2 linked regions of the Homo sapiens genome follow. The protein of the gene in region 1 interacts with the protein of each later gene in a pairwise test. Each region holds a gene or a part of one and is shown in the gene's direction. Other genes may lie near its edges.

Evidence for each region.
Region 2: the proteins of SHPRH (region 1) and EDARADD interact in binary tests that used the Homo sapiens proteins (3 or more experiments, as listed by UniProt).

The regions. Positions count from the first base shown.
Region 1 is NC_000006.12:145,955,884-145,971,586, reverse strand, and holds the start of SHPRH (E3 ubiquitin-protein ligase SHPRH), read left to right. Parts: upstream 1-7,228; 5' UTR 7,229-7,856; intron 7,857-15,703. UniProt on the Homo sapiens protein: E3 ubiquitin-protein ligase involved in DNA repair.
Region 2 is NC_000001.11:236,386,848-236,402,920, forward strand, and holds the start of EDARADD (ectodysplasin-A receptor-associated adapter protein), read left to right. Parts: upstream 1-7,438; 5' UTR 7,439-7,597; coding exon 7,598-7,658; intron 7,659-8,565; exon of another isoform or gene 8,566-8,782; coding exon of another isoform or gene 8,783-8,813; intron 8,814-16,073. UniProt on the Homo sapiens protein: Adapter protein that interacts with EDAR DEATH domain and couples the receptor to EDA signaling pathway during morphogenesis of ectodermal organs. Mediates the activation of NF-kappa-B.

The DNA.
Region 1 (15,703 bases):
TCCTAAGCCAAAAGAACAAAGCTGGAGGCATCACGCTACCTGACTTCAAACTACACTACAAGGCTACAGCAACCAAAACAGCATGGTACTGGTACAAAAACAGAGATATAGACCAATGGAACAGAACAGAGGCCTCAGAAATAATGCTGCATATCTATAACTATCTGATCTTTGACAAACCTGACAAAAACAAGCAATGGGGAAAGGATTCCCTATTTAATAAATGGTGCTGGGAAAACTGGCTAGCCCTATGTAGAAAGCTGAAACTGGATCCCTTCCTTACACCTTACACAAAAATTAATTCAAGATGGATTAAAGACTTAAATGTTAGACCTAAAACCATAAAAACCCTAGAAGAAAACCTATGCAATACTATTCAGGACATAGGCATGGGCGAGGACTTCATGTCTAAAACACCAAAAGCGATGGCAACAAAAGCCAAAATTGACAAATGGGATCTAATTAAACTAAAGAGCTTCTGCACAGCAAAAGAAACTACCATCAGAGTGAACAGGCAACCTACAGAATGGGAGAAAATTTTTGCAACCTACTCATCTGACAAAGGGCTAATATCCAGAATGTACAATGAACTCAAACAAATTTACAAGAAAAAAAAAAACAACCCCATCAAAAAGTGGTCAAAGGATATGAACAGACACTTCTCAAAAGTAGACATTTATGCAGCCAAAAGACACATGAAAAAATGCTCATCATCACTGGCCATCAGAGAAATGCAGATGAAAACCACAATGAGATGCCATCTCACACCAGTTAGAATGGCAATCATTAAAAAGTCAGGAAATAACAGGTGCTGGAGAGCATGTGGAGAAATAGGAACACTTTTACACTGTTGGTGGGACTGTAAACTAGTTCAACCCTTGTGGAAGTCAGTGTGGCGATTCCTCAGGGATCTAGAACTAGAAATACCATTTGACCCAGCCATCCCATTACTGGATGTATACCCAAAGGATTATAAAACATGCTGCTATAAAGACACATGCACATGTATGTTTATTGCAGCACTATTCACAATAGCAAAGACTTGGACCCAACCTAAATGTCCAACAATGGTAGACTGGATTAAGAAAATGTGGCACATATATACCATGGAATACTATGCAGCCATAAAAAATGATGAGCTCATGTCCTTTGTAGGGACATGGATGAAGCTGGAAACCATCATTCTCAGCAAACTATCACAAGGACAAAAAACCAAACACCGCATGTTCTCACTCATAGGTGGGAAGTGAACAATGAGAACACATGGACACAGGAAGGGGAACATCCCACACTGGGGCCTGTTGTGGGGTGGGGGGAGGGGGGAGGGGGGAGGCATAGCATTAGGAGATATACCTAATGTTAAATGAAGAGTTAATGGGTGCAGGAGACCAACATGGCACATGTATACATATGTAACAAAACTGCACGTTGTGCACATGTACCCTAAAACTTAAAGTATAATAAATTTATATATATACATCAAAAAAAAAAGATTTCTTGAGGTCTTAGATGCATTCTGAAAGTGCTATCCACTATTTTTGTACTTCAAAATGACACGATTGTGACCCTTGAAATACTCAGAGAATATTTTACTTGTAGATCTCAAAACTGCATAATAAATATTACTCAGAGTCATAAGTATCGACAGAGTCGTCGACAATATTCCTATTCTTTAATGCCTAACACCATACTGACAAGATTAATTGAAAAAATATGCCTTAGGGGAAAATGTAACAGTTGGGTATGGAGGGTGGGGAGGCTCTGGGATGGTGGGAAGGAGAGCCTATGATACAGATTATACTATCTTCATTGTTAAACACTGAATATAATCTCCTATCTTTCCTTACCAGCAGATTCACCTTCAACCTTCTTGCTTTTACCTAATTTAAATCGTTGCTTTATTCACACCTAAAACAAACACTGTCATAGGTTCATGTCCATTGCAGCATTTTGTGTACAGACTACAAGTTTTGCTTTAGAAGTTATGAGAGGCAGAAGGAACACAGCTTGAGGTTTTAGTTTTCAGGCTGAGCTTGCAGCAGGGGAGACCGAACAAACTTTGGGCTTGAAACCAATCCAACTTGTAAATCATCAAGGAAAAATGAAACAAAATTAACAATTAAATCTACCCAGGTCTAGTCTAGGGAAAAGCTGTAAAGTTCTAAATATGAGGATTTGGGTTCAATTCGCACACCTCCTGTCCCTGATATATCCTGCTCATGCTCCTGCAAAGCATGTCCGACCCTTGGTACCATTTTATGTTTGGTTGATCTGATACCACTCCTTTCAGCATAGCTGATGACCCCTGCTAGCACCAATTTTCCAAGACCATGTTTCTTCTTCCCACTCTTTTTTTGGTACTACATGCATTCTACCAGTGGTTTTGGACGTTGTAATTCATTCCAGAATAGCGGAGACTTTGATCCTAATATTTTCAATTTGTCAGAAGGGAAAGCAGTCCCAAGACAGGTTGGTAGTAGGAATTGGCAACAAGGAGTCATCTTTGGGAATCCCCAATCATACTGGGTGGGCCACCTACTTTGTTTCCAGAGAGCTGGCAAAGGTAGGTAGAATACAGAATAAATTTCTCTAGTCATTTTGTTAATGATCTATTCAGGAGAACACAGTGTTTGTACTGAATGATCCTTATTGTTGATATACAAGCCCTATGTCATTAAGTAATGACACACCTCTTGCCTTCAGTTTGCCCATGATTACTTAGTAAGTTTGAGGACTAAGTTGTATATTTTTATTTGATAGACAACATGATTTAGTAATAAGAGACAATAGCCTAGACAGAGGAATAAAGAGTTTTAGGTCCTCTTGTTCTCTTACAGCTAAATTGTGGCAAATTACCAAATTTCTGAGTCTCAGATTGCTCTCCTGTAAAATGGAAATTTTAAAAGCCTATTACTAGTCTAGGGATCAAATAAAAAAATAAACATAAAAGGGCTTTGCAAAATATAAAGTTCTTCACTGATAAATCATCATTTATCTTGTTTCTGTCCCTAAAGGGAGTTAAATTTGTCTTAACTCCTCTACTCCCTCTCAACTAGTCCTCCTCCTTGAGAACAACTTAGAATATTCATTTGTAAAATAGATGCCCCAGTTAGGGGTATGGCTAGAATAAAGCCACTGTCCCTAAAAGAAAATGAACCTACAGCTAAAGCTAGTGAGACCATACAAGGAAGAAAGTGGTCTGACTGATCTCATGTTATAGTTTCAAGAAGGAGCAGATGAACTCCGTGAACACTGAGTTATTCACTGTCAAGATGCACGATGTCCAATCAGTTCATTCTGATTTGCGGAATGTCATTAGATCACTAGCATCTAATAGGTGGATGAACTCAGTGTACTCAGGGGTGAACAGGTGTCTCACAGCTGGGAGCTGCCAGAGAGCCAAGGTGCAATCATGAACCATGTTTTCTGAAATTAGCTCTGATGAAAAATATTATTCCAGAGAGAAATTTTTCAAAGAATAGGCAGAGCATTTGGTAAATATAGGATTGAACACTGGAAAATTTAAAAGAATTTTGTTTCATTCTAATCACTGAATGGTAGTATACAGAATTCCATCTCTACAGTTGAAATTGCATCTCCATACGACAGACAACTGGATCTGAAGTTTAATATCTTGCATGGACATTACCATGATTACATATATAAATTACCCCAATCAAGGTGAACAAAGGTGAAATGATGCTGTGCTTATTTTTAAATATTTCTGCCTAGCACTAGTTGGATAGACTCAGCCAAACTTTGGGCCTAATTATCTGCTCCAATGATGAGAAGTGACATAAAACTATCAAAGATAACCTTACTCAGCACATCATATGTTTAAATAGCAAGTTGCAAATTACACTTTCAGAAGCAAGGTTACATCACCTTGTATTTGATAAAATGATTGGTTTGCCAAGGAAGGAGGATCCTACTTGCCCACTGTTCCAGCATTAGCACTACTTTTTCCAGCTTGCCTCATAAATCCTGGAATAAGGTAACTGATTTCCATCTATAGGCATACCTTGGAGATATCACAAGTTTTGTTCCAGGCTACCACAATAAGGCAAATATTGCAATAAAGTAAGTCACAGGATATTTTTTTTGTTTCCCAGTGCATATAAAAGTGACACTGACACTACAATGTAGTGTGTTAAGTGTGCAATAGCATTATGTCTAAAAAAAGTATCTACCTTAACTTAAAAAATATTGTATTGCTAAAAAAAATCTTGCTTAAAAAATATTGCTTAAAAAAGTTGGCTGCAGCAATTGACTCTTTATTTCACAAAATATTCCTCCATGATATGAACTGCTCTTTGATAGCATTTTACCAACAGTAGAACTTCTTTCAAAACTCAAGTCAATCCCCTTAAACTCTGGACTGCTTTGTCCACTAAATTTATGAAATATTTTAAAATCTTTGCTGTCATTTCAACAACGTTCACAGTATCTTCCCAGGAGTATATTCCATCTCAGGAAACCAGTTTCTTGGCTTATCTATAAGAAGTAACTCTTCATCCATTAAAGTTTTACTATGAGATTGCAGCAGTTCTGTCATATCTTCAGACCCCACTTCTAATTCTAGCTCTCTTGCTGTTTCCACCACATCTGCAGTTACTTCCTCCATTGAAGTCTCAATCCCTTCAAAGCTGAGACTTTGAGTTCCTGAGAGATGGAATCAACTTCTTCTAAACTACTATTAATGATATTTTGACCTCTCCCACCAATCTCAAATGTTGTTAATGACATACAGAATGGTGGATGTTTTCCAGAAGTTTTTAATTTACTTTGTCTAGATCTATCAGAAGAATTCCTATCTATGTCATCCATAGCCTTATTACTTCTTAAATAATAAGATGTCAAAGTTAAAATTACTCTTGATCCATGGGCTGCAGAATGGGTTTTGTGTTAACAGGCATGAAAACAACATTAATCTCCTTGTACATCTCCATCAGAGCTCTTGGGTGACCAGGTGCATTATAAATGAGCAGTAATATTTTGAAAGGAATCTTTTTTTTTTCTGAGCAGTAGGTCTGAACAGTGGGCTTAAAATATCCTGTACATCTATGCTGTTAAGTAGATGTGCTGTCATCCACACTTCATTGTTCCATTTATAGAGTACAGACAGAATAGATTTAGCATAACTCTTTAGGGCCCTAGGAGTTTCAGAATGATAAATGAGTATTGGCCTCAAATTCAAGTCATTAGCTGCATTAGCCCCTAACAAGAGAGTCAACCTGTCCTGTGAAGCTTAGAAGCTATGAAAGTCCTAGATGGCCTTTTCTTTCTATAGAAAGCTGTCTTATCTACATGGAAAATCTGTTGTTTTGTGTGGCCACCTGCTTCAATTATTTTAGCTAGATCTTCTGAAAAACTTGCCACAGCTTCTACATCAGCACTTGCTCCTTCACCTTGTACTTTGATGTTATGGAGATGGCTTCTTTTCTTAAATCTCATGAACCAACCTCTGCTTGCTTCACATTTTTCTGCTACAGCTTCATCACCTCTCTCAGCCTTCACAGAACTGAAAAAAGTTAGGGCCTTGCTCTGGATTAGGCTTTGGCTTAAGGGAATGCTGAGGCTGGTTTTATCTTTTATTCAGGCCACTAAAACTTTTTCCATATCAGCATGAGGCTGTTTCGTTTTCTTATCATTTGTGTTTTCATTGGAGTAGCACTTTTAATTCCCTTCTAGAACTTTTCCTTTGCATTCACAACTTAGCTAACTTTGGTACAAGAGGCCTAGCTTTTGGCTTATCTCAGCTTTTGACATGGCTTCCTCACTAAATTCCTTCGGTTTTCGATTTAAAGTGAGAGATGTGCCACCCTTCCTTTTACTTGAACACTTAATAGTCCATTGTAGGGTTATTAATTGGCCTAATTTCAATATTGTTGTGTCTCAAAGAATAGGGAGGCCTGAAGAGAGGAAGAGAGACAGGCGCCAATAGTGAAGCTTTCAGAACACACACAACATTTATTAAGTTTAGCATCTTCTATGAGCAGAGTTTGTAATGCTCCCAAAAAACTACAATAGTAACATCAAAGATAACTAATCATAGATCACCATAACAGATGAACAGCAAGTGAACACATGCTGCTTGAAAAATGATGCTGACAGACTTGCTTGAGTAAGGTTGCCAAAAAACTTCAATTTATAGGAAAACATATTATCTGCAAAGTACAATAAAGGGAAGCAAAATAAAAGGAGGCGGGGATTTGCTTATGGAAACAGCTTCGTATCTGTGATAAAGGAATATACTAAGTAAAATATGGACTACCCTGGACTGTCTAACACAACTACAACCGATATTCACTTGGACAAGAACTTAGTTCAAGTGCTTCTGTGGTCACACAACCCAAAAGGCCTCCACAGCAGAAAAGCTGCTATTAGGTACTCACTAACTAAGTACTGAGTCCCCAGTGTTTCCTGAGGGTTATTTCACAGGCTCCTGACCCTGAAGCCTCTCAGAGTTATTCCAACATTAAGGTCACTTCTATGAGGAAGAGGTGAGAGGAAAAAAGACCAATAGTGGAAGGCCAGCTTCAGCGCAACACATGTATTTAATAGTTTCTCTCATCTTTGAATATTTATTCACATTTCCCTTTAAAGTCTGTTTTTGAGGGGGAGAAGCTTTATTCGTACCTACTTAGTGGCTGCTTTATAGCAGTAAAATAGATGCTTTTGCAGAATTCTTTTCTGCTTTTCTTTTGTGAGACGGAGTCTCATTCTATCACCCAGTGGGGAGATGTCGGCTTACTCAATCTCTGCCTCGCAGGTTCAAGCATTCTCCTGCTTCAGCCTCCCGAGCAGCTGGGACTACAGGCGGGTACTACAGGCGCGCACCACAACGCCCGGCTAATTTTTGTATTTTTAGTAGAGACGGGGTTTCGCTATCTTGGCCAGGCTGTTCTCCAACTCCTGACCTCAGGAAATCCGCCCGCCTCGGCCTCCCAAAGTGGTGGGATTACAGGCGTGAGCCACCGCTCCTGGCCCCTGCCTTTTTATTAGAGATACAAATCACACACGCCCTTCGCTTCAAGGGGAGCCCCGCCCCCTACTTCGGGCATTCGGCCATCCTGTGTTCTCTAATGGCGTGGGGCAGAGCTATCGCGAGACTCCACTGTATCCTCAGCAAGTTTTTAACAGTGTGAACTTGCGCAGAAGAGACTCATGAAGCCAGCGCAGGAGAAAGGGGGCGGGGTGCTCTGACGAGCGCGTTCGCCTTGACCCCACGCTACAGCGCGCGCCCGGCAGCTAGGCGCTGTGGTTTCTGGGTCTCCCGGGGGACCCCTACACGTTCCGGCAAAAAGCGCTCGTGCCCACCTCAAGCCCATGTTCGGTGGGTGGCGAATGCGTGCCCGTGATCTGCTGGGTCTGTAGAGGAGCGCAGGCCTGGTGCAAACAGACTCAAGAGGCTCGGAGAACCAGCTTGGGTAGGCGCTTGGGTGATGGAAGGTCAGGGGTCAGAGGTCGGGAGGGAGGGAGGGAGGTGGTCTTTGGCCTCCGGGACCAGGGAGGGAGGACGCTGGTTGTCCTGGAGCCCGGGAAGCTCAAGGGCTGAGAGGGAGCCGCTGCGCGAGTCTTCCCCACCTCTTCCCGATCCCGGACTAGCGAACTTCGGACCACCACGTCCCTCCGGGGATAAAGTGGGGTCGTGGGAAAGGAGGCTGTGCTTCTCCTCATGCACTGGGGCCTGCGGTGTTTGTCTCGAGCGTCCAACACACTAGGATCCGGGAGTCCGTCGTCACGCTCCTTGGCCTCGCGGTCGCTTGTTTGCTCGGCCTGCTGGGAGCGATCCGGCGCTGACAGCCCCGCTCAGACTCCGGGAGCCGCTTGTGGGTCTTTCGGAAGATAACTGAGTGGGTACCGTGCGCCGCAGATCTACCCCCGGAGGCTGGAACTGGGTCGCCGCCTCCCTTCTTTGTGCGCGGCATTGTATTAGTAAAAGGGGAGGCAGAGGTTTCTCAGTCCCACTCAAAGTTCTCCGTTACCTTTGGAGCCAGATTAATTACATTCGAATTCAGAACCACTCTTTGACATTGTACAGTTTGACTGGTAGTTGCTATGTTTATGAACGAAGATAGGGTGTTATTTGATGATTAATAGTCACTGTATAATGATCAGTTAAATAATGACCAGGAAGCTTGTGCCCTTTTTCCAAGTAGTTTGACATTAGCACGAGGTAGAAATCCGAGATGTTTGATGCCTTCCAACTTGTACTTAAGGAACTTAAGGAACTTGGGGCTTTTTCTGAACAAAATAAGATAAAGTTATTACTGTTACTTTAAATTATTCCAGTGGGCATTAGTAGGAATGATGAAACTCTTGAATAGAAACGATCCATGATATCTCTACTGTCACAAAAAAGACTATTTAGTTTATGATTAGTAAACATGCTGGAGACAGAGCAGTCCTGAGCAGTATTGTAATGATTATGTCTGTGCTCGATAACCTGCACTTTCTAGAGCTTTAAAGGACCAGTTAACCAGTAAGCTGGCAATTGAGAATAAAATAGTTTACTTTTGAGAGATGCTCTTGTATATCCTCTTTGTCCACCCGAAAGGAGCTGGACTTACAGAATTATTAAAACAAAACTTTTATTATTAAGAGTTTAGGCCAGTAAGATTTAGGGGAAACAATTTGCTGGTGAAAAAGCTTCTTATGAGGGCATTTTTAAAGTTTATGTAACTAGCATATTTTAGCATTCAGTAGAAGAAAATACTCTCACCTTGCTGGAATTATTTCTACAGAAAAGGAAAAGATTATGTTAACCCTGGGTCATTAAGAGCTTCCTAGTACTTAGTAATGAGTGGGCTTCATTTCCATAACACAACATTTTGGACAGGAATATGGCAAGTATGTAATCCTTTTTGCCCTTAATAGCCTAAACCCAGATCTACCATGGATTTGTTGTAATTCAAGATTTGTGTGTATCTTTTAAAGAGGAAATAATATTTTGGAGGGAAAAAATGTGAATTTAAGTTGTGTTATTCATTTGTTGGATTGTCTTAGTAATGTAACATTTTATGTTTATTTTTCTAGCATTCCATCCTTGTTTTCTGTTAAAGATACAGTTCAGGCAGTTTTCCCTGCCTCGTTCTAGTATTTCATTTTTCTCAGAAATACTAGTTTCATATTACCTATAGTCTTCTAGAATGTGGATAAGAGAGACTTCTCCAAAAAGAAATAAGAGTAAAGTATCGTTAGGTCCTCAAAAGGAGGGAATACATCCACGGAATTAGAGATCTTTGTTTCACCCTTTTTGTATGTCTTTACTTCCTAGCACTGACCTGGCATTGGGAGTACAACACTGAATAGGATACTACTCCTGCCCATCTTTCAAAGTGAACACTCTAGCAGTTGGGATCGAGGAGAGAGAGGCCCTTAACTCAGCTTCTCTAGTCATGGAAGCCTTTCCAGGGAAGATTGGGATGGAGACAGGCATAAAAGCAATTCAAGCAAAAGGCTTTTATATTTAAATACAAGACAGTAAAAGTGCGGTCCATATAGAAAACTTCACATAATTACGTTTTACCCAAACACTGCTAATTAAGGAGGAGGAAGAAGTAGTTGTGACTGATAAGGTATGAATAAAACCAGAAGAATATGGGATGTGGTTAGATACAGAATTTCACCAGTACTTGACTTACTAGTTGCCAAATTGCATTTTAGTCATAAGTATATTTGACCAAATACTATTTTCTTTGGTTCAAGAAGTTAACCCTGAATAGAGATTTCCTTAAGTAAAGACTCAGTCAAAACCAGGAGCTTTTTGTTTGGTTGGTTGATTTTTGATCATGAATGTTTACTCAGTTAAGAACTGGACAAAGGGAGAGCATTGCTAGAAATTCTGGTGTTGACTTTTCTGCAGTTTATCATTATCACTGATAAGTACCTTGAGGCACTAATATTGGAAGAATCAGGCTGAAAGAATACATCTGAAGGAATGTGCAAATTATAATGGTGTACATAATTTAAAAGATACTGGATAGGTTTTACCAGAGAACAGAATAAATAGTTGAAGTAATGTTTTCTGGTTTGGTAATATGTCTGTTACAAAATTATTGTGGGAAACATGGCACATATTACTTCTCACATTCCATTGGCTAGGACTGGTCACAGGACCAAACCAAGCTGGGCAGTCATTTCTCAACTACTCTATACTTTGAGTGGAAATAAGTGGATTTTAGTTGGCAGCTGGTTATCCATAACAAGGTTTTTTGAACTTGGCTGCACCCTGGAATTTTTTAGGGATTCTAAAAAATAAAGGGAGTAGTGCCTGGGCCCTTCTCCAAGACATTCTGACTTAGTTGGCTCGACATCAGGATTTTTTTAAGTTCCCCTGGTGATTCTAATGTGCAGTCAAGTTTGAGAAGCACTAATCTGTGGTCCCCCATCCTGCGACATTACAGTTTGGTTATTGTGAAATGTGGTTTAGAGCAGGGGTCCCCACCCCTCAGGCCATGGACCGGTGCCAGTCCGTGGCCTGTTAGAACCGGGCTGCATTGCAGGAGGTGAGTTGCGGGCAAGCGAGCATTACCACCTGAGCTGTGCCTCCTGTCAGATCAACAGTCAGTAGATTACCATAAGAGCATGAATGCTATCGTGAACTGCATATGCGCAGGATCTAGGTTGTGCACTTCTTATTAAAACCTAATGCCTGATGATCTAAGGTGGAATAGTTTCATCCCTAAACAACCCCCTCTCCACTCCACCCCTCTCCTCCGGTCCATGGAAAACTTGTCTTCCATGAAACCCATTTATGGTACCAAAAAGGTTGGGAACTGCTGGTTTAGAGTGTTCTCAGGATGATGATAAGTAGCAACTACCATTTATGGAATACAGGCCAAATTTCTAGTACTGCTGTTGTACTTAAATTATTTCTAACCACAATCCTGCTATCATCCCCATTTTAGAGATGAGAAAATTGGCACAGAAGACTGGATAACTATTCCAATGCCACACAGTCAGTAAATGCCAAAGCTGGAATTAGAATGAATATAAGACTTCAAAGCATTGCATTCTCACCTTTAAGCCACATCGCTTTGCTAATGTGAGACTCTGCTAGACAGTTGCTTTTTGGGTTTTCAGAGTTAATGATTCCACAATAACCATGTTATTAATATTATTATGGTTAGTGTGATACATTGTGTAACTGGCCCAATTCCCTTCCAACACTCCCTCTACCCTTCCACCCCCCATATCCATGCTCTTTGCCATGTGCAGTTTCACCTAGTAAAGAGGTGTAGTATATTTCTTCACCACTTGACATTGGGTCCATGGATATGTCTTGCTTTGGTCTGTGGCACCTTAGTGGTTTTTAAGCACTTTGAAAACTACTTGTGTGATTGGATTTGCAGTAATACACCTCAACCATTGCCATAAAGAACATTCCTGAGTTACTTTGCTGATCCAAGGAGAGGGGATAGGAACTACATTAAGCAGAGCCAAACTGCTTTTCCAGAAACCTAGCCTAGATTAGCCTCCTTCAGCTAATGTGCAGATCTATGAGAATAAATGATTGCTATATCAAGGTATTGAGCTTTGAGGTAGTGTGTTACACAGCATGTTTGTGGCAGTAGTTAACTGATAAGCTACTATAGCATAACTTTTTAAAGTTCCTGCAGAGTGACCCACTTTCAGTATTCCAGCTTATGCTTTGAGGAAAACTGGACAAACATAAACACTTAGGAAATTAAGAGCTTTCTATATTATTCCACTAAGATAAGAGAGGATAAGATGCTTTAAAAGTAGTTGACCATAGCCAAGGATTGATTTTAATCCATCACCTGCACATTCATAAGTGAAGCACGGGCTAAGGGAATAGAATTCTCATGATTGACTTAAACAAGCACTGTCTGATACATAGACTTTTTGCAATTATGTGAATGCTCTATATTTGTGCTGTCCAGTACAGTAGCCACTAGTCACATAGCGCTACTGAGCACATGGGGCTAGTGAGACTGAAGAGCTGAGTTTATAACATTTAATTTTATTTATAGTCATGCATCACTTAATGATGGGGCTGTGTTTTGAGGAATGCATCATAGGCAAGTTTGTTGTGTGAACATCTTAAGAGTATACTTACACAAACCTAGGTGGTACCGCCAGCCTACTACACACCTAGGCTCTATGGTACAGCCTGCTGCTCCTAGGCTACAAACCTGTACAGTATATTCGGTACTGGATACTGTAGGCAGTTGTCACACCGTAGTATTTGTATATTTAAACATATTTAAATATAGAAAATGTACAATAAAGATATGGTATAAAAGATAAAAAATAGTACACCTTTGTGGGGTACTTAGCATGAATGCAGCTTATAACACTGAAGGTTGCTCTGGGTTAGTCAGGGAGTGAATGTGAAGGCCTGGGACATTACTGTACACTTCTGTAGACTTTGTAAACACTGTACACTTATGCTACACAAAGTTTATTAAAAAATAAAGTAATGCGGCTAGGCGCGGTGGCTCACGCCTGTAGTCCCAGCACTTTGGGAGGCTGAGGCATGCAGATCTTGAGTTCAGGAGTTCAAAACCATCCTGGCTAACACATGAAACCCCGTCTCTACTAAAAATACAAAAAAAAAGTTAGCTGGGCATAGTGGCAGGCGCCTGTAGTCCCAGCTACTCAGGAGGCTGAGGCAGGAGAATGGCATGAACCCAGGAGGTGGAGCTTGCAGTGAGCAGAGATCACGCCACTGCACTCCAGCTGGGCAACAGAGTGAGTCTCTATCTCAATAAATAAATAAATAAATAAATGCATTATGATGTTACAATGGCTATGATGTCACTAGTCCATAGGAATTTTTCAGCTCCCTTATGGAACCACTGTAATATTTGGTCCCTCATTGACCAAAATGTCATTATACAATGCATAACTGTATTGAAAGTTAAGTAGTCACATGCAGCCAATAACTACCTTATTGGATTTGCTTTGGCCAATAGTAGCTAGAAACTACTTCCTTGGAGGTGCCAAGGAAATCACTTCCTTTGAATCATAGGGCCACCTTGTTCCTAAATAAAGGTTCAGTCATCAGGGAAGGAGGATAGACCTTAGGCAGGTAAATAATGTCACTTTAGTTTCTTTTATGGTTATTGGTCTATTCATATTTTCCTTCTTGGGCCAGTTTTGTTCATTTGTATTTTGTTAGCAAAATTTTATCACTTTATAATTTATCATTTTATCTAGATTTTTCAGATTTATTGAATAAAGTTATACTTAATATTAAAATTTCTAAATCTCGTGCATCTTTTTGTTTTTGCTCTTTAAATCAACTTTATGATATAATTTATGTATAAGAAAATTCAATTTAAAGTATATAATTTGATGAGTTTTGACAGATGTATACTCTGCAATCATGTGTTGAACATTTATGTCACCCCAAAGCCTGCCTTCCTGCTCCTTTACTGTCAGTCACCTCTTTATACTTCCTTGCCCCTGGTAACCACTCATCTACTTTCTGCAATCAGGTTTTTGCCATTTCTAGAATTTCATGTAAATGGAATCATATAGTATATAGTCTTTCACATCTAGCTTTCTTCAGTTTAGCATAATGCTTTAACAGTTCATTCAGGTTATTTTACAGAAGTCTCTTTTTATCACAGAATAGTATTCCATTGTGTGACTATGCCACAATTTGTCCATTCACCAGTTGATGGACATTTGGGTTTTCTTCCAGTTTGGGGCTTTTAATAGTAAAGCTGTTAACATTCAAGTTTAAATTTTTGTGGATTTATGTTTTGATTTCTCTTGGATAAATACCTAAGAGAGGGATTACTAGGCTGCATAGTAAGTTATATTCAATTTTATTAGAAACTGATACTTTTCCAAAGTGACTGTGCTGTGTTCAAATGTTGGAGAGTTCAGTTCTGTTTGAGCCATACTCTCAGTGTTTTAAATTTTTGACTATTTTAGTATATGAATAGTGGCATCTCATTGTGATTTGTGGGTTGAATTTGTATTGCTTTAATGACTGATGCTGGTGAAAATATTTTCATATGCTTATTTTACACTTATAGGTCATCTTTGGTGAAATGTCTATTCAAAATTTTTGACTTTTTTAAATGTTTGTCTTACTATTAATTTGTGAGAGTTCTTTATATATTCTGCAAACATATCCTTCATCAGATACTTGATTTGCTAATATTTTCTCCCATCTGTGACTTGCTGTCATATTTTGATGACAGTATCTTTTGAAGAACCAAAATATTTAATTTTGATGAAACTTAGTTTATCATATTCTTACATAGTCTATGGTTTTTGTTTCCTGCTTAAAAATTTTTGTGCCTTTTTTTTGGGCTAATCCAATGTCATTTAGGTTTTCTCCTCTGTTTTCTTTGAGAAGTTTTAGTTTTAGCTTTTATAGTTTATTATCTATTTTTAGTTAATTCTTACATTTTAGGAGGTAAAGCTTCATTTCATTGCATATTGGTATCCATTTACTAAAAGGATACCTTTCCCATTGACTGCCTCTGAACTTCTTTCAAAAATCAATTGACCATCCATGTGTGGGTCCACTACAGGACATTTCCCTTGATCTATATGTTGGTCTTTACACCACTACTGCACCATTTTTATTTCTTTTGACATATGTCTTGGAATCAGTGTAAGTCATTCAACTTTATTTTTCTTTTCTAAAATTATATTGACTTTCCTGTATTGTAGGCATTTTAGTATAAATTTTAACATCAGGTTGTCAGTTTCTACAGAACAAACCTGTTGGAATTTTGAATGGGATTGCTTTTCTATAGGTCAGTACTAAGAAATTGACATCTGAACATTTTGAGTCTTCTAGTCCATGAACATAGTACACTGTATAGATCTCTGATTATACTGTTATACTATTTTCTAAATTTTTATGTATGCTTGAAAATTTTCAGAATGAAAGTATAGTAAGTTATCTTTTACAGAAATTTAAAAATCAAGAAAAAAGTTTACTATATTTATACACATATTTTTTGTTTTTGCTTTTTATTTCCTTGTGTGTGGATCCAGATTTCCATCTGATGTCATATTTCTTCTACCCAAGCGCTTCTTACATTACTTAGATTGTAGGTATACAGGTGATAAGTCCTTTTGGCTTTTGTTGATCTTTTTTTCACCTTCATTTTTGAAAGATATTTTGCTGGGTTTAGAGCTGTGGGGTGGGAGCAGTGTCTAAACCAGAGAAATAGGGCCAATCTGGAGAGAAGTCCTCACTTTTCAGTAATTTAATTATGGCATACCTTATTGTGATTGTTCTTTATGTTTGCCCTGATTGGGTTTCATTGAGCTTCTTGGTTTTCTGAGTTGATGGTTTTTATAGAAGTTGGAAAATTTTCATGCATGATTTTTTCAAAAAGTTTTTTGTATCCTTTCCATTCTTTGCTGCTGAGATTCCAGTTTTATGCATGTTTGACTCCTTAACATTGTCTAGTAGGTTTCTGATGTTCTATTTATTGTTTTTTCAGTCTTTGTTTATCTCTACTTCATTTTTGACAGTTTCTGTTGTTACTGTTGTTTCCATTGTTTAAGCTTATTCTGCTTCTTTTTTTCTTTGCCATTTCTAATCTGCTGGTAATCTCATACAATGTGTTTTTCGTTTTAGATGTTGCATTTCCATCTGCATAAATTCTATAGGAGTCACTTGTATATCTATCATTTTTCTTTGTCATATTCATGTTTTCCTCTACCTTTAACATATTGAGAATATTTACAGTAGCTG
Region 2 (16,073 bases), on another chromosome or scaffold:
AGCCGCCCCATCCGGGAGGGAGGTGGGGGGTCAGCCCCCCCGCCCGGCCAGCCGTGCCGTCCGGGAGGGAGGTGGGGGGGTCAGCCCCCCGCCCGGCCAGCCGCCCCGTCCGGGAGGTGAGGGGCGCCTCTGCCCGGCCGCCCCTACTGGGAAGTGAGGAGCCCCTCTGCCCGGCCAGCCGCCCCATCCGGGAGGGAGGTGGGGGGGTCGGCCCCCCGCCCGGCCAGCCGCCCCGTCCGGGAGGGAGGTGGGGGTGTCGGCCCCCCGCCTGGCCAGCCGCCCCGTCCGGGAGGGAGGTGGGGGGGTCAGCCCCCCGCCCGGCCAGCCGCCCCGTCCGGGAGGGAGGTGGGGGGGGTCAGCCCCCCCGCCCGGCCAGCCGCCCCGTCCGGGAGGTGAGGGGCGCCTCTGCCCGGCCGCCCCTACTGGGAAGTGAGGAGCCCCTCTGACCAGCCAGCCGCCCCGTCCGGGAGGGAGGTAGGGGGGTCAGCCCCCCGCCCGGCCAGCCGCCCCCTCCGGGAGGGAGGTGGGGGGGGTCAGCCCCCCTGCCCGGCCAGCCGCCCCGTCCGGGAGGTGAGGGGCGCCTCTGCCCGGCCGCCCCTACTGGGAAGTGAGGAGCCCCTCTGCCTGGCCACCACCCCGTCTGGGAGGTGTGCCCAACAGCTCATTGAGAACGGGCCAGGATGACAATGGCGGCTTTGTGGAATAGAAAGGCGGGAAAGGTGGGGAAAAGATTGAGAAATCGGATGGTTGCCGTGTCTGTGTAGAAAGAAGTAGACATGGGAGACTTTTCATTTTGTTCTGCACTAAGAAAAATTCCTCTGCCTTGGGAATCCTGTTGATCTGTGACCTTACCCCCAACCCTGTGCTCCCTGAAACATGTGCTGTGTCCACTCAGGGTTAAATGGATTAAGGGCGGTGCAAGATGTGCTTTGTTAAACAGATGCTTGAAGGCAGCATGCTCGTTAAGAGTCATCACCAATCCCTAATCTCAAGTAATCAGGGACACAAACACTGCGGAAGGCCGCAGGGTCCTCTGCCTAGGAAAACCAGAGACCTTTGTTCACTGGTTTATCTGCTGACCTTCCCTCCACTATTGTCCCATGACCCTGCCAAATCCCCCTCTGTGAGAAACACCCAAGAATTATCAATAAAAAAATAAATTAAAAAAAAAAATAATAATAATAATAATTTGAAAGTTAATGTTTTACAATTAGATCTTTAATCTATCCAAAGCTTACTTTTGTGTATAGGGTGAGACAGAAATATAAATTGCATTGTGTATGTGTGTGTGTGTGTGTGTATCCTCCCAACACCATTTGAACTGTCTTTTGACCATTTAAATGTGTCTATCATTTATCATATTCCAAACACATACATGAGTCTGTGTCTTACATTTTTGTTCTGTTCCATTAATCTTTTTTTCACTTTTCTTGTACCAATATTCAGTGTTTTAACTACTGTTGTTTTATCATATCTTGCTATATTGTAAGACAAATCCTTGTTATTCTTTCTCAAAGTGATCTTGAATTTACTCTCCCATATGAATTTTGCAATCAGTTTTATGTTCCAAGAAAGTCTTGTTAATTTGGTTGAGTTAGCATTGAATCTGTAGATTAATTAAGGAATCATGACTATCTTTACAATATTGAGACATTTTATCCATTAACATGGTATAGCTTGCTATTCCGTCAGATTTCTTTTTATGTTTTTCACTAAAGCTTTGTAGTATTTGCAATAATGCTCTCACACAGTTTTATTGAATTTATTTCTAGTTACTTTATAGTTTTACTTGTTGATTTAAATGGGACCTTCCCCCCGCACCCAGTTGGATATTGTTGTCATATAAGAAAGCTCTTGGTGTTTGATAACTCCCCACCAAGCTATATTCACTTATTAGTTCTAATAGTTTCTCAGGTGACTCACTTGGATCCAAGTCCACCTTCTTGTCTTAGCTCAGAATAAGTTCTAAATGACAATTTGTTAAATGAATTTTTAAAGTGATTGATCATTTTGTAGATTCCTGAGTTACCAGTCTGAGCCTGTGTTCTCCATTCTGGGAGTAGAAAGATACTGAACGCTAGCTATGGTCACTGATAACACTAGATTGTTTTTCCATTTGTCCTTTTCTTGCAACAGCAATAACCAAAGCAAACATCCCTCAAAAAACTTCTCTAGCTGAATTTCATTACTTGGGTTTCAGGTTTTAATATATGAAGTTCATCTTTTGGAACAGATTTTATCTCAAAATCTGAAGCAAGAAATAAATTGCTATGTATGAAGGCATTCACTAAAAAAGCAGCTGGAAATGGTGCTGGGTGTGGGAGCACCCATGATCAAGGCACCAGGAACACCTGCAAGGTTGTGAGTGAGGATCCCGAGGCTACAGGAGGATATGTAGAATAAAAGTGCCCTCTGCACAGCCACACTTTTTCACCCCATCCCATCCCTCCTCTCTGCTCTGCACCTACCACTCCCCACCCAGGGCATTCTAAGTGTGTTTAGCAATACACCATACTAAGAATCACCCACACTTTGCCATTCTGTTTGTGGGAAACCAAACACTGCTCATGCTTCTAGTGAGTAAACAATTCAAAGTAAACTGCAAGTAGACAAGAGAGATTTAATCTCCTGTGTGAGGAAGGGTATTGCATAAGTGAAGAGAGGAACTTAAGATTCATGCTTAAATACACGCACTGGAATGCTGTGTCTCTGACAAACAGAAATCAAATCAGCACAAAGGTAATATTTTACTTAAGCTTCTGTCCCTCTGTTGACATTTTGGAATAAAACTTTCCAGATAATTTTATGTATGTATGCAAAATCTACAAGGCAATTGACTCCTGTATAATAATGAATGCTTAAGAAGGTAACAAGACTAGGCATGGTGGCCCACACATGTAATCCCAGTACTTTAGAGGCCAAGGCAGGTGGATTCCCTGAGCCCAGGAGTTCGAGACCTGCCTAGGTAATGTAGTGAGACTCCTGTCTCTACAAAAAATAAAAATAAAAAAATTGGCCAGGCGTGGTGGGGTACATCTGTAGTCCCAGACACTCAAGAGGCTGAGGTGGAGGGACTGCTTGAACCTCAGGACGACGACGCTGCAGTGAGCTGTGATCATGCCACTACACTTTGCACTCCAGCCTCGGAGACAGAGCAAGACCCTGTCTCAAAAACAAGAAGGTAGCAAAAGAAGATTTAATATTTTCTGATAGGAATGGAAAACCAAACATCGTGTGTTCTCACTGATGTGTAGGAGCTAAGCTATGAGGATGCAAAGGCATAAGAATGATACAGTGAACTTTGGGGACTTGAGGGAAGAGTGGGAGGGGGCAAGGGATAAAAGACAACCAATATGGTGCACTGTATTCTCCTCGGGTGATGGGTGCACCAAAATCTCACAAACCACCACTAAAGAACTTACTCATGGCCGGGCGTGGTGGCTCATGCCTGTAATCCCAGCACTTTGGGAGGCCGAGGCGGGCGGATCACGAGGTCAGGAGATCAAGACCATCCTGGCTAACACGGTGAAACCCCATCTCTACTAAAAATACAAAAAATTAGCTGGGCGTGGTGGCGGGCGCCTGTAATCCCAGCTACAGGAGGCTGAGGCAGGAGAATGGCGTGAACCTGGTAGGCGGAGCTTGCAGTGAGCTGAGATCCAGCCACTGCACTCCAGCCTGGGGGACAGAGCGAGACTCCGTCTCAGAAAAAAAAAGAACTTACTCATTAACCAAATACCACCTGTACCCCAATAACGTATGGAAAAAAAATTCTGATATGTTTCTCCTGCATTTGGATGAGGATGTAAATTCAACTCTAATAAATTACAGTGTATCAAAAGGATTAAAGGGTCTCTCCCTGCATTCTCTCCTAGCTCTGTTCCATCCTACACACAGCTGCTGGATTAATCTTCCAAAACACCAATTTTCTCATGCCACTTTTCAAAAACTAGCTTCCTGGCTTCCTGTTGTCTAAAAACTAGTTTCAGATGCTTTTGTCTGGCATTCAAGAAGGTCAGTAGTCTAGAGCCTCCTAAATGTTTCACTCCTGCTCCTTCCTTCTACCACTTACCACCTGTGTGCTCTTGGGTTAGTTGTTATTATTATTATTATTTTTTGAGATGGAGTCTCACTCTGTCGCCAGGCTGGAGTACAATGGTGTGATCTCAACTCACTGCAACCTCCCCCTCCTGGGTTTAAGTGATTCTCCCACCTCAGCCTCCTAAGTAGCTGAGAGTACAGGCGCCTGCCACCACGCCCAGCTTGGGCTAATTATTTTAAGACCGGTCCCCCTGTCCCTGTAAAGATCCCACGCACCTCCTCCACTCAGTGGCTCACTGTAGCAATGCCCTGAAAGGCTGTAATTGAGTCATATTCCAGCCCCTGGACTCAGGAGTCAGGGGTGATGTCGCCACCACCTAATTGCTTGGATTGAGGATGGGAACAGTGATTCTCAAGAAGAAAACTTGGACACTATTACCAGAAGTTAGTACAACTGCCTTAAAGCACTCTGGGCAAAATTTAACAACTGTCTGTTCCAAAAATGCAGAGACATGGAAACTTAGTAACTCTTGTTGGGGCATCTTCCATCACATATGATTCACTAAGGGTATATCAAGCAAATTCAACTGTAGGAACTGGCACATTCTGAGGCATAGGGTCTCTTATGTTCCTAAATTTATATTTTACCATCGTGGTTCTAGCCACTTTTCTGTAGATCAGTCCCACTTGAGCAGCCCAGTTTGCTGGGTTTTATCTGTATGGAATGTACATATCCTTTGAAGTAAGACACATGTGGTTCAATAATGTAACTTTTTAGATTGCAGAAATTTCACTGTAACACTTACCTCAAATGGCATAAAATAAGCAAAAACATGTATTCTGTGATGAATCAAACAAAATATATTTTGAGTTGTTGTTTCCCCCATTTAAAACAGCACATTTCTGATCATTGTCATCTGTTTGTGAAAAGACATGAGACCAACAGTCCTTTCCACACTTACGGCTGCAGCCTTGTGCCCATGAGTTAAAGCCTCGGAATTTGCCTGAAACTTTCCCTGTCAATCCGAGATGGTCATGACCAAGCCACTTTGCTTCCATACATCTTCAGTGCCTCCTTCCACACACACATCTTTCCTGGTTTAAACTTTCATTTCTCCAGTACTATAGCAAAACAGTATTTGCAAATCTCTTTTGACCACAAACTCCTAACAGTCAGGGACTTCTCATTTGGATTTCCCCAGGGCTTGGAATTTTGTTTTGTTCATGGGGAGGGGGTGAGATTTTTAAAATTGCATTAATGAATGAAACCAATCAATCCATTGCTCCATGCTGTGTACAAACACTGTAATAAATATTGGTTGACTTCTTATAACTAAGGCAATAGGAGCTTCTCTCAATAAACTAAATTCCAAGGAAAGAATGAAGGTAGGAAAGTAGCTGGTTTATTTGCACCTACTATATGACAGGCCTTAGTTTAGGTTTGTTTGTTTGCTTGCCTGGAGACAGGGTCTCATTCTGTCACCCAGTGGTGTGGTCTGATCATAGCTCCCTGAGGTCTGTAACTCCTTGGCTCAAGTGACCCTCGTGCTTCACCCTCCGAGAGTAGCAGGGACTACAGGCATGTACCACCATGCTCAGCTAATTTTTTTTTTTTTTTGTCAGAGTCTTGCTCTATCACCCAGGCTGGAGTGCAGTGGCACAATCTCAGCTCACTGCAGCTCTGCCTCCCAGGTTTAAGCGATTCTCCTGCCTCAGCCTCCCAAGTAGTTGGGTGCCTGCCACCACACCTGGCTAATTTTTGTATTTGTATTTGTATTTATTTATTTATTTATTTATTTTGAGATGGAGTCTCACTCTGTCACCCAGGCTGGAGTGCAGTGGCATGATCTCAGCTCACTGATCCTCCACCTCCTGGATTCAAGTGATTCTCCTGCCTCAGCCTCCCAAGTAGCTGGGATTACAGGTGCCTGTCACCACGCCCAGCTAATTTTTGTATTTTAAGCAGAGACGGGGTTTCACCATGTTGGGCAGTCTGATCTCGAACTTCTGACTTCAAGCGATCCACCCACCTTGGCCTCCCAAAGTGCTGGGATCCAGCTAATATTTAAATTATTTTGTAGAGACTGGGTCTCAAAATGTTGCATAGGCTGGTCTTGAACTCCTTGCCTCAAGCAATCCTGCCACCTTGGCCTCCGAAAGTGCTGAAATTGCATGTGTGAGCCACCATGCCCAGCCAGTATTTTCACATAAACATTATTTCAGTGAATTCTCACAATCCTGCAGACACTTGCAGACTCAGTTTTGGTTTCTTACTTAATGTAACACAACCTTAGAGTGACAGGTCCATCAGCGAAATCCAGCATATTTGACTCCATGATTACCAAATGCACTATCTCCATTTATTGGAAAAGGAAAATTGGAGGTCACTCAAAGAGCAGTGAAGTTATGGAAATATGAAATTTTTCACATGACTCTGAGATTGAGTGTTTGGGTACTATCGGGAAATGTTAAAAATGTCCATTTTCTTTTCTTTCTTTCTTTCTTTTTTTTTTTTTTTTTTTTTTGAGACAGAGTCTCACTCTGTCGCCCAGGCTGGAGTGCCGTGGTGCAATCTCAGCTTACTGCAACCTCCACCTCCCAGGTTCAAGCGATTCTTTTGCCTCAGCTTCCTGAGTGGCTGGGAGTACAGGCATGTGCCACCAATCCAGCTAAGTTTTTTGTATTTTTAGTAGCGGTGGGGTTTCATCACATTGGCCAGGCTGGCCTCGAACTCCTGACCTCAAATAATCCACCTGCCTTGGGCTCCCAAAGTGCTGGGGTTACAGGTGTGAGCCACTGCACCCAGCCCAAAAATGTCTATTTTCAATAGTGGTTTAAAACACTCTTGGACAGCAAAAGAAATAAAAGTTGAAGGACATTGTGACAGCAAATTGATTGTATGGGAACTCTGGTGAATGCGAATCATTTTTAAATTACTTTTTTTGTAAAGTGCAAAACAACAATAGCACCCATTTGCGTCATACTTTATAGTTCGCAAAGCACATGGGAAAAATAAAGGTAATGATGGGGATCGTTGCAATTCATAGGAAAGGAGGCACGAGGAAATGAAAATGAAAGGGAGTAATAACTACGTAACTAGTCAATCTTCCTTAAAAAAAAAAACCCTTAAAATATACCACCATCTTCTATTTGATATAATGCAGAATGGGAATGATAAAAACATGAATTACATTTCAGAGTTTCAAAAAGCAAACCAGCTTTATAGCAATGCTTGAGGTTGGGCTGCTAACAAGCTCACTCAACTAGTGTTTCCTGACGGCCAACGTCAGAATAATTCCATCTCCATGAGAAGTACAGAAAGAACCACAAACCAAACCTCCAAATTGATTCTAAGATAAAATACCCTTAAAAAAAATTTCCCTTCCTATCCGAAGGCAGACCAAGAGGAAGTTTATCCTCCCACCTACAAATTCCCCAGAGAGCTTTCATCTAGAAGGTTTGACTCTGGCCAGACAACCAGCGAGCATCTTCTCGCAATCTGTTGCTTCTTCCATGGCAAACTCCAGAGAATTAAGAAGCCAAACTCAACATCGCCATGGGCCTCAGGACGACTAAACAGATGGGGAGAGGCACTAAAGCTCCTGGTCACCAAGAGGGTATGTAGGCATTTGCTGTCTTCCTGGATTTCTCAGAGCTGAGTTTTTAGCCAGAGGTTGCTTATTTACGATAATTCTTGGATATATTATACACTAAATACTATTATTATCTTTTTCGACCCGACTTTTATCTTTCTGTTCTTATGTGTGAAGGCAGAGAAAGATTATTTAGAGCTCTTCAAAGATTCCTATTTAATTTAAAATGCCTGTCGCCTTCCTATAATAGGCTTATGATGGATGATAGCTTTAGTTAAAATGTAGCAATCTTAAATATATTCTTCATAACCAATTCCAACGTGTTCTCACTTAAGTAATGGGTATAAAACCCCACTTAAGCGTAATATTTTAAATATTTGAAGCCATCTTTTCTGAGAGAACCCGAAGCTGTTTTTTCTAGAGAAGCTGTGAGTGTGTATTGGGCGACTTCTGTTCACTCCTTTTCTGCAGCACTCACCCTGGAGGTCATGTAGTAACTAATGCCAAAGAAAAATCAAAATAGAAAGTACCAGCGTGTGCCATCATGCAGCGGCAGAGCCTGCTTAAAGATCAGGAAATTTGTCTAAATATCAGATCGCCGGCGGGCATCTCAGCCCAGGCCTGTGTAAGGGGAGTTCTGGTGTCTCAGCTGAGGGCGTGAGTAGGGAGCCAGGAAAGCGACCCGCGACTGCAGCCGTTTCTTAAGGCCAGTCCTTCGCTCGCAGTCTGTCCCGGGCGGCAGTCGTGTCAGCCCCCCGCTAGGACCCGCCCAGGGGGACGTGGGTACCGGGCAGGACGCGCGCTCTGGGCGCTGGGGACGCCCGGGACACTCGGGGCCCCGCCTTGCGTCCCAGCCCCGGGTCGCGGCACCCCGGCTCCCGCCCCGCGCCTCTGGAGGGAGGTACCGAGGGACGCGCAGCGAAGGGGCTTTGCTAATTGCCAAAGCAGGAAGTGAGCTCGTGGAAGAAGCGAAGGAGGAGAAGAAGAAGGGAGGGGAAGGCGGAGGAGGGCAGGGGCGCGCAGAGCCACGGTTTGCTCCAGGCGCGTCGGAACCGCAGGACTTTTCATCCCCGTGGTCCCACGGTCCTCCCGCGCCCCGGAGGCCTGCCAGCCCCGCTCGGACGCTCGTTTGCCCCTAACCCGCCGCCATGGCTTCACCGGACGACCCTCTGCGCGCAGGTAAAGGGACACAGCGCCGCGCCCGCTCCTGGAGCGAGCACCGCGGGGCGGGAGCTCGGGAGGCGCTCGCAGCAGCCGCAGGGCTATCGAGGCCGGGCCTCGGCGACCCCCGAGGGAGGCCCGGGAACCACCCCCGACCCAGGCGCCAGACCCGGAGTCGCACGGGGCTCCCAGTCCAGCCCCGCGAGCGGCTGCTGACCGCCCCTCCCGCGCTCGCCAGGGCCCCTGCCCCGCGTCAGCCACCGCGCGCCTTCCCCCTGCCCATGCCGCAGCCCCCGTGGCTTTTGTTCTGGACTCGGGATGCCAGGTTGAGACACGTCCTGCAAACCTCTGGCAGAAATGGGCGCAAGGGGGTGGATTTCGTTTTCGCCTCCCGGGCTTTTTCTTTCTCCCCGCTCACATGCCTTCTCATTACTCCTCTTCCTCTCTCCCATTGCACTTTGATGAAATGGTTTTGTCTGTCTAAACATTGGCCCTCGGAGCTATTTCATCAGATAGTATCCGCAGAATCGAGAGGCGGATCCCACCTGTGGGATCCCATCTGTGATTAGAATGGCCTCTAGTTCTGTCTTTATTTTAAAATATTGTGTGTTGGTACCCGAGGTCGGAGTGGAGATTTTTCTCTATTCTCTCACGTGAATCTAAAATCCGTCCCAGACCTCGCTTTCCTGGAGTTCTCTCTCTCCGCTGTCCTATAACCTAGACGGTGACATCCGTGGGTGTTTCTTGAACACACGAATGAATGATCTATCCCTCAGAGTACACTGGGGCTTTACTTGGTTTTGTTGAGGTTGGAAACACTGAAGAGAGTTACACAGAACCTGATATAACCGTTTAGATAAACGCGTTTCCTATTTCATTTCTTGAGCTTGGGCAGGGGCCGAGTTTGAATGTTCCATCCTTAAATTGTGGCTTCAGCAGTCAAAAGGAGACAGTGTGTCTGCAGGTGGTCAGAAGACTACACCCAACAACTAAGTTGGCATTGTGATGGCTGGGTTTGGGGGCGTTTCTTGGAAACTTCAAAGAAAGATCTACCTTTTTTTTTTTTAAGTGGGGATTGTTAAACATTTTATCAATTGGATGCGGAAAATAAATACATTGTCTAGATATTCTTCCCCATCCCCATACCTATTGTTTGAAAAAACAGAAGGGGAAACAAAGGGAGAAACCCTCCTACTGCCCCATCCCACTCCACTCCTACCCTAGCATCCACCTCCTTTTCTGAGAACTGAATTGACAAGGTGCCAAGGGGTGTTTTAGGCTGGATTTTACTACTAGTGGCCTCAGATCTCATTAAATGATGATTGCAGGGGTGGGGGGTGGGGGAATTCAAAAAGATCTTGAGAGAGATACACTGCATGGAGATAAAATGTAAAATCTACTTGGGCTCCCCTAAATCGACAGTACCAGGCAAGATGGGGGCTGGGAAACAGCTCAGCAGTGACCACAGTGTGTAAAAAGCTCAGTGGCTGGGTGCAGTGGCTCAGGCCTGTAATGCCAGCACTTTGGGAGGCTGAGGCAAGAGGATTGCTTCAGGCCAGGAGTTTGAGATCAGCCTTGGCAACATAGTGAGACCCTGACTCTACAAAAAATAGAAAAATTAGCCAAATGTGCCAGTGCATACCTATAGTCCCAGCTACTCGGGGGGCTGAGGCAGGAGGATTGCTTGAGTCCAGGAGGTCGAGGCTGCAGTAAGCCACTGCACTCCAGCCTGGGTGACAGAGCAAAAACCTGTATCTCAAAATAAATAAATAAATAAATAAAAAGCTACAGGTTCCAGATTTCCCAAGATGGTGTTCTTAGTCTGCCCAGCCCAGCCAAAATGGATGTGCACAACCTGGAACAAATGGGCAACATGGAACAAAGGGATTTCAAAATCCCAGGACATGTGGAGGAGTGAGAGGACAGAGGATATGATGATAAGAGGGCGTCATGTGGAAAGAATCTGTCTCTTTGACTTCAAGAGGTAGAACCCAAACCTGTCGGTGAAAACTTTAGAGAGAGATGGATTTGGGCTTCCTACAAAGAGAAAGGAGGCCTCCTAAGGGTGAGAGCTCCCCACCAGTTGGCAGAGGATGCTGAAGAACATACTTGACCATCTGAAAGATGATCCAAATGTCCATTCCCGCTCTGGGACTCTATTCTGTCTATAAAATGAGCGCTCCTCCATTTAAACACAGGCGCACACACACACCCCAATTTCCCCTTCCTAACATATTGTTTCGTTTCTGCAACCCACAGGAGACATCCCCTTACTCCTATTTCTGTAATGAAACCATAGATGGTGCCCATATCTTGAGCTCGCTTTACCCCAGACCAAGTGACCATACTCTCTCGCCTGATTTCCCACACTCTTCTCCCGCCTGGTGTTTTCACACCATTCCAACGTAGGTTTTCACACCCACTCTTGCCTTCTGGTAACCTATTCTGCAAAAGGTTGCCAGGGCCATCTTTTATTTTATTTTTATTATTATTATTTTTCAAGATGGAGTCTCACTCTGTCACCCAGGCTGGAGTGCAGTGGCGTGATCCCCACTCACTGCAACCTCCGCCTCCCGGGTTCAAGAGATTCTCCTGTCTCAGCCTCCCAAGTAACTGGTATTACAGGTGCACACTACCACACCTGGCTAATTTTTTGTATTTTTAGGCTGGTCTCGAACTCCTGACCTCAAGTGATCCACCCACCTCGGCCTCCCAGAGTGCTGGGATTACTGGTGTGAACCACTGTGCCCAGCCAGTCGTCTTTTAAAAACAAATCGGATTCTGCCATTTGTCTGTGCTGGCTTTGAATCCGGTGCTGGCTTTCCAACACTCCGACAGATCCTCAGTCCTTGAGGCTTACACACTCTGTGCAATCAATCCCTACCTGTTCCTTCACTTGCCTCACCTGACACCTAGCTTGACCCCTGCTCTCTGCACGCAGCCGTGCTGCCTCCTTTCATTTCCTTGAAGCCTCTTGCACCCTCGTGCCTCCTGGCCTTTGCAAACTTTGTTCCTGCGGCCTGGAAGGACCCCTGCATTCCAGCCCTCACCCCATCCTCCACCCACCCGTTTCCTTCTACTTAACCTCCAGATTTCAGCTCATAGGTCACCGGGATCCAGCCCGATGTTATACATGCTCAGCAAACCCTGTACCTTTCCTTTCTGGCACCTGTCACAATTTCTAGCTGTGATTATTTGGCCACCGTGGCTATTTCCAGTAGGAAATAAACTCGTGGACAGAGGTCATGTCTGTGTGGTAGCTCTCCCTAACACTCAGCATAGTACTCCGCACATAGTAAGCCCTGGGCAAATACCACCTCAGTGAATGAAGGAAGGTTATAAAATTTAACCACAGGCTCTTTAAAGAGTTGGGGGGAGAAAAAGCTCTTCCCGTATTGGCATTTTAGGAACTTACTCATCGAGTTAGCCGTATTAACTAAGTTTTCTTTGTAAAGTTAAAGTAAGATGTTTGTATATCCACGTGCATATAACAAAAGTATGTATATGATTATAGTATATTATGAGTTAATTGTATTTATTTATTTATTAATTTTTTTGAGACAGAATCTCACTCTGTTGCCCAGGCTGGAGTGCAATGATGCGATCTTGGCTCACGGTGACCTCCACCTCCTGGGTTCAAGCAATTCTCCTGCCTTAGCCTCCCAAGTAGCTCGGATTACAGGGGTGTGCCACCACCCCTGGCTAATTTTTGTATTTCTTTTTTAGTAGAGACGGGGTTTCACCATGTTGGCCAGGCTGGCCTGGAACCACTGACCTCAAGTGATCTGACTGCTTCAGCTTCCCAAAGTGCTGGGATTACAGGCATGAGCCACCACGCCCTGGCCACACCCTGGCCATGAGTTAATTTTAAGTGACTTTTTACATTGAGAAAATTCACAAGACTGTCACAGTCACATGGAAGGAAAACAATGATGGTGGTTATAGTGTAGCTATCACCCTGTGTCTCTCCCACTGAGAAACAGTCTCACAATGGATGAGCCAGATTTGTCTGTCAAATGTTTGTAAAATCTGTTTGTTCATGATTGTTCATACAGATAGATTTTACAGACAGAAACAAACAACCGGGCTTTGAAGGTCTGGGTCAAAGGTGGCACAATTCCTTGCTTCGTTGCAGTAAGGCAAGTGCCGACGGCCACAGAGCATTGCAAAAGAGCACATTCTCCCTTTGTTCTGAGACTCCACACCGCAGGGCTGTTTCCTGGGGGAACCCTGGGCCTGGGCCACCAACTCAGGACAGCCCCAGTGGTGGCATTCACCTCTCACTGCCCCTCCTGTGGGCTTCAATGGGTCCAAGGTGGCAACCTACCCTCCTGTGGCATTGGGCGCAGTACCCAGGACTAAAGGATAAACCACTTCCTGGAGCACTCATATGTGCAAAGCTGGACCAGCCAATTCTTTCTGCAGATACACCAAAGAGAGGGATGGCAATCTGTGGTTTTCCCTTCTCTGCTCCTTCTGCCCTTTCTCTTTCTCCTCCACGTGGGTTTTCCCAATGCTCACTTCATTTCTCTTCCTTTCTTACAACGCCTCTGCTTTGTGAGTTTCCTTCTCTCTACCCAAGCATTTTCCCTGAGCTTTATCTCTTTGTTTGCTGTCTTCCCTCATCCTCCCCTGCCCTCTTCTGTTTGATCCCCCGTCAGTAGCCTGGCTGACACACTTAATGCTCGGCTGCCCTCCAGAGAGGTTGCTGTAGGGATGTACTTCTGTGATCCTTGCCCCTTTCCCAGCTTGTTCAGCCCCTGCTGCGGGGTCTGAGGTTGACAGAGTAGCCGAGGTCAGGGTGAGGTGCTGAAAAGACAGAGGAAGCTCAATGAAACAGTGTCAGCACCACCACGCAGCAGCACCCCTGCAGCTCTGAGAGCTTCTGGAATCCTGAATATGTCTCAGGACTCCAGAAAAACTTCCTTTTGTTTTTTCTGTCTCGCTCTGCACTCAGGCTGGAGTGCAATGACACGATCTTGGCTCATTGCAACTTCCATCTCCTGGGCTCAAGCAATCCTCCCACCTCAGCCTCCTGAGTAGCTGGGGCCACAGGCTTGTACCACCACACCCGGCTATTTTTTTTTTTTTTTTTTGTATTTTTAGTAGAGATGGGGTCTCGCCATATTGCCCAAGTAATCTCCTGAACTCAAGCAATCTGCCCTCCTTGGCCTCCCAAAGTGCTGGGATTATAGGAGTGAGCCACCACACCCCACCTCCAAGCCTTTTTTATATCCAATAATGACAATAGCAGTCAAAAGAAAAGTTATGGGCTGGGAGCGGTGGCTCACGCCTATAATCCCCAGCACTTTAGGAGGCCGAGGGAGGTGGATCACCTGAGGTCAGGAGTTCAAGAACCAGGCTGGCCAACATGGCGAAACCCCATGTCTAATAAAAATACAAAAATTAGCTGGGCACCTGTGATCTCAGCTATATGGGAGGCTGAGGTGGGAGAATCACTTGAACCCAGGAGGCAGAGGTTGCAGTGAGCTGAGATCACACTGCTGCACTACAGCCTGGGCGACAGAACAAGACTGTCTCAAATAAAAAAAAAAAAGCTATGGTACAAAACAACACACAAATAACAAATGAGAAAGAAATTAATCCTGCAATCACACATTCAAATAATTGCCTGTAATTCTTCACTAGAAAGCACAGTGACTGCACTTTTCTGGCTCAGGATGCTTGGGAAGGCCAGGAAGTCCTGACATACTTCCTTGTTTTCTCTGAAAGGACATCTTTAGAGATGTTTGAACTTCCTTTGAGAAACCGTCTCTAGGAAGCATTCACCGCTATCTGATGTCAGAATGCGGCAGTGCAGTCCTCGGCCGCCCCACCAGTGTCTGTTTCGGGTTATGTGCTGAGGATTCTTTCTGGAGAGGCTGTTGCATACAGTACGTGTTTCCCAGCATTCCTGAAGAGGCTCTGATTTGGTAGATGATGGGATTTGAGTCTTTGAGTTGAAGAAGAGTAGATGAGATTTAGGATTTAGAGTGGATGCTGGAATGATTAACGCTTTTGGGGATGTCGGGAGGAGGCAAATAGATTCTGCATGTGGAAAGGATGGGCAGGGGGCAGAGTGTGAACTGTTACGGGTTGAATTGTGCCCCTCTAAAAAGATATGTTGAAGTTGGAATTCCTAGTACCTCAGAATGTAACTTTCTTCGGAAACAGAGTCTTTCCAGAGGTAACCAATTCAAAATGAAATCATCAGAGTGGGCTCTAAACCAATATGATTGGTGCCCATATAAAAAGGGGAAATGGGACACACAGACACTCACCTTCTCAAGAGAGTCTGTCGGGTGGTCAGTGTATGAACCACTTCTATTTTATTTTGAGACCAAGTTTCGCTCTTGTTGCCCAGGCTGGAGTGCAGTGGTGCTGTCTCGGCTCACTGCAACCTCCACCTCCCGGGTTCAAGCGATTCTCCTGCTTCAGCTTCCTGAGTAGCTGAGATTACAGGCATCCATCACCGTGCCCAGTTAATTTTTTTATTTTTAATAGAGATGGGGTTTTCCCATATTGGTCAGGCTGGTCTCAAACTCCTGACCTCAGGTGATCTGCCCGCCTCGGCCTCCCAAAATACTGGGATTACAGATGTGAGCCACTGTGCCCAGCCCACTTCTATTTTAAATTTTATTTTATTGGCCAGGCGTGGTGGCTTGTGCCTGTAATCCCAGCATTTTGGGAAGCCAAGGTGGGTTCAGGAGTTTGAAACCAGCCTGGGTAACATAGTGAGACCCCCATCTCTACAAAAATAAAAATAAATTAGCCAGATGTGACAGCACATGTCTTTAGTCCTAGCTACTCAAGAGGAGGTGGAAGGATTGCTTGAGCCCAGGAGGTGGAGGCTGCAGTGAGCTGTGATTAAGCCACTGCACTCCAGCCTGGGTGAGAGAGTGAAACCCTGTCTCAAAATTTTTATTTTATTTTTTATTATTTTAAATAAGTAGAAATGAGGTCTCACTGTGTTGCCCAGGCTGTTCTCAAACATCCTGAACTCAAGCAATCCTCCCACCTTGGCTTCCCAAAGTGCTGGGACTACAGATGTCAGCCACCACACCTGGCCATGAGGCACTTCTAGAACCTGATTATACTGGAAAACAGGCAGATTATGAAGCCAGAAAGTCCCAGATACAAGTTCTGGCTTTTCCACTTACCTCTTACCCTGTGATCTTGGATACTCAATGTGTGAAAAAGGGGATGCCTAATGCCTTCCTCAGGGTTACTGGAAGGCTTAGCTGAGACTGTGTGTAAGCCATGCCATGCAGAGCAGAC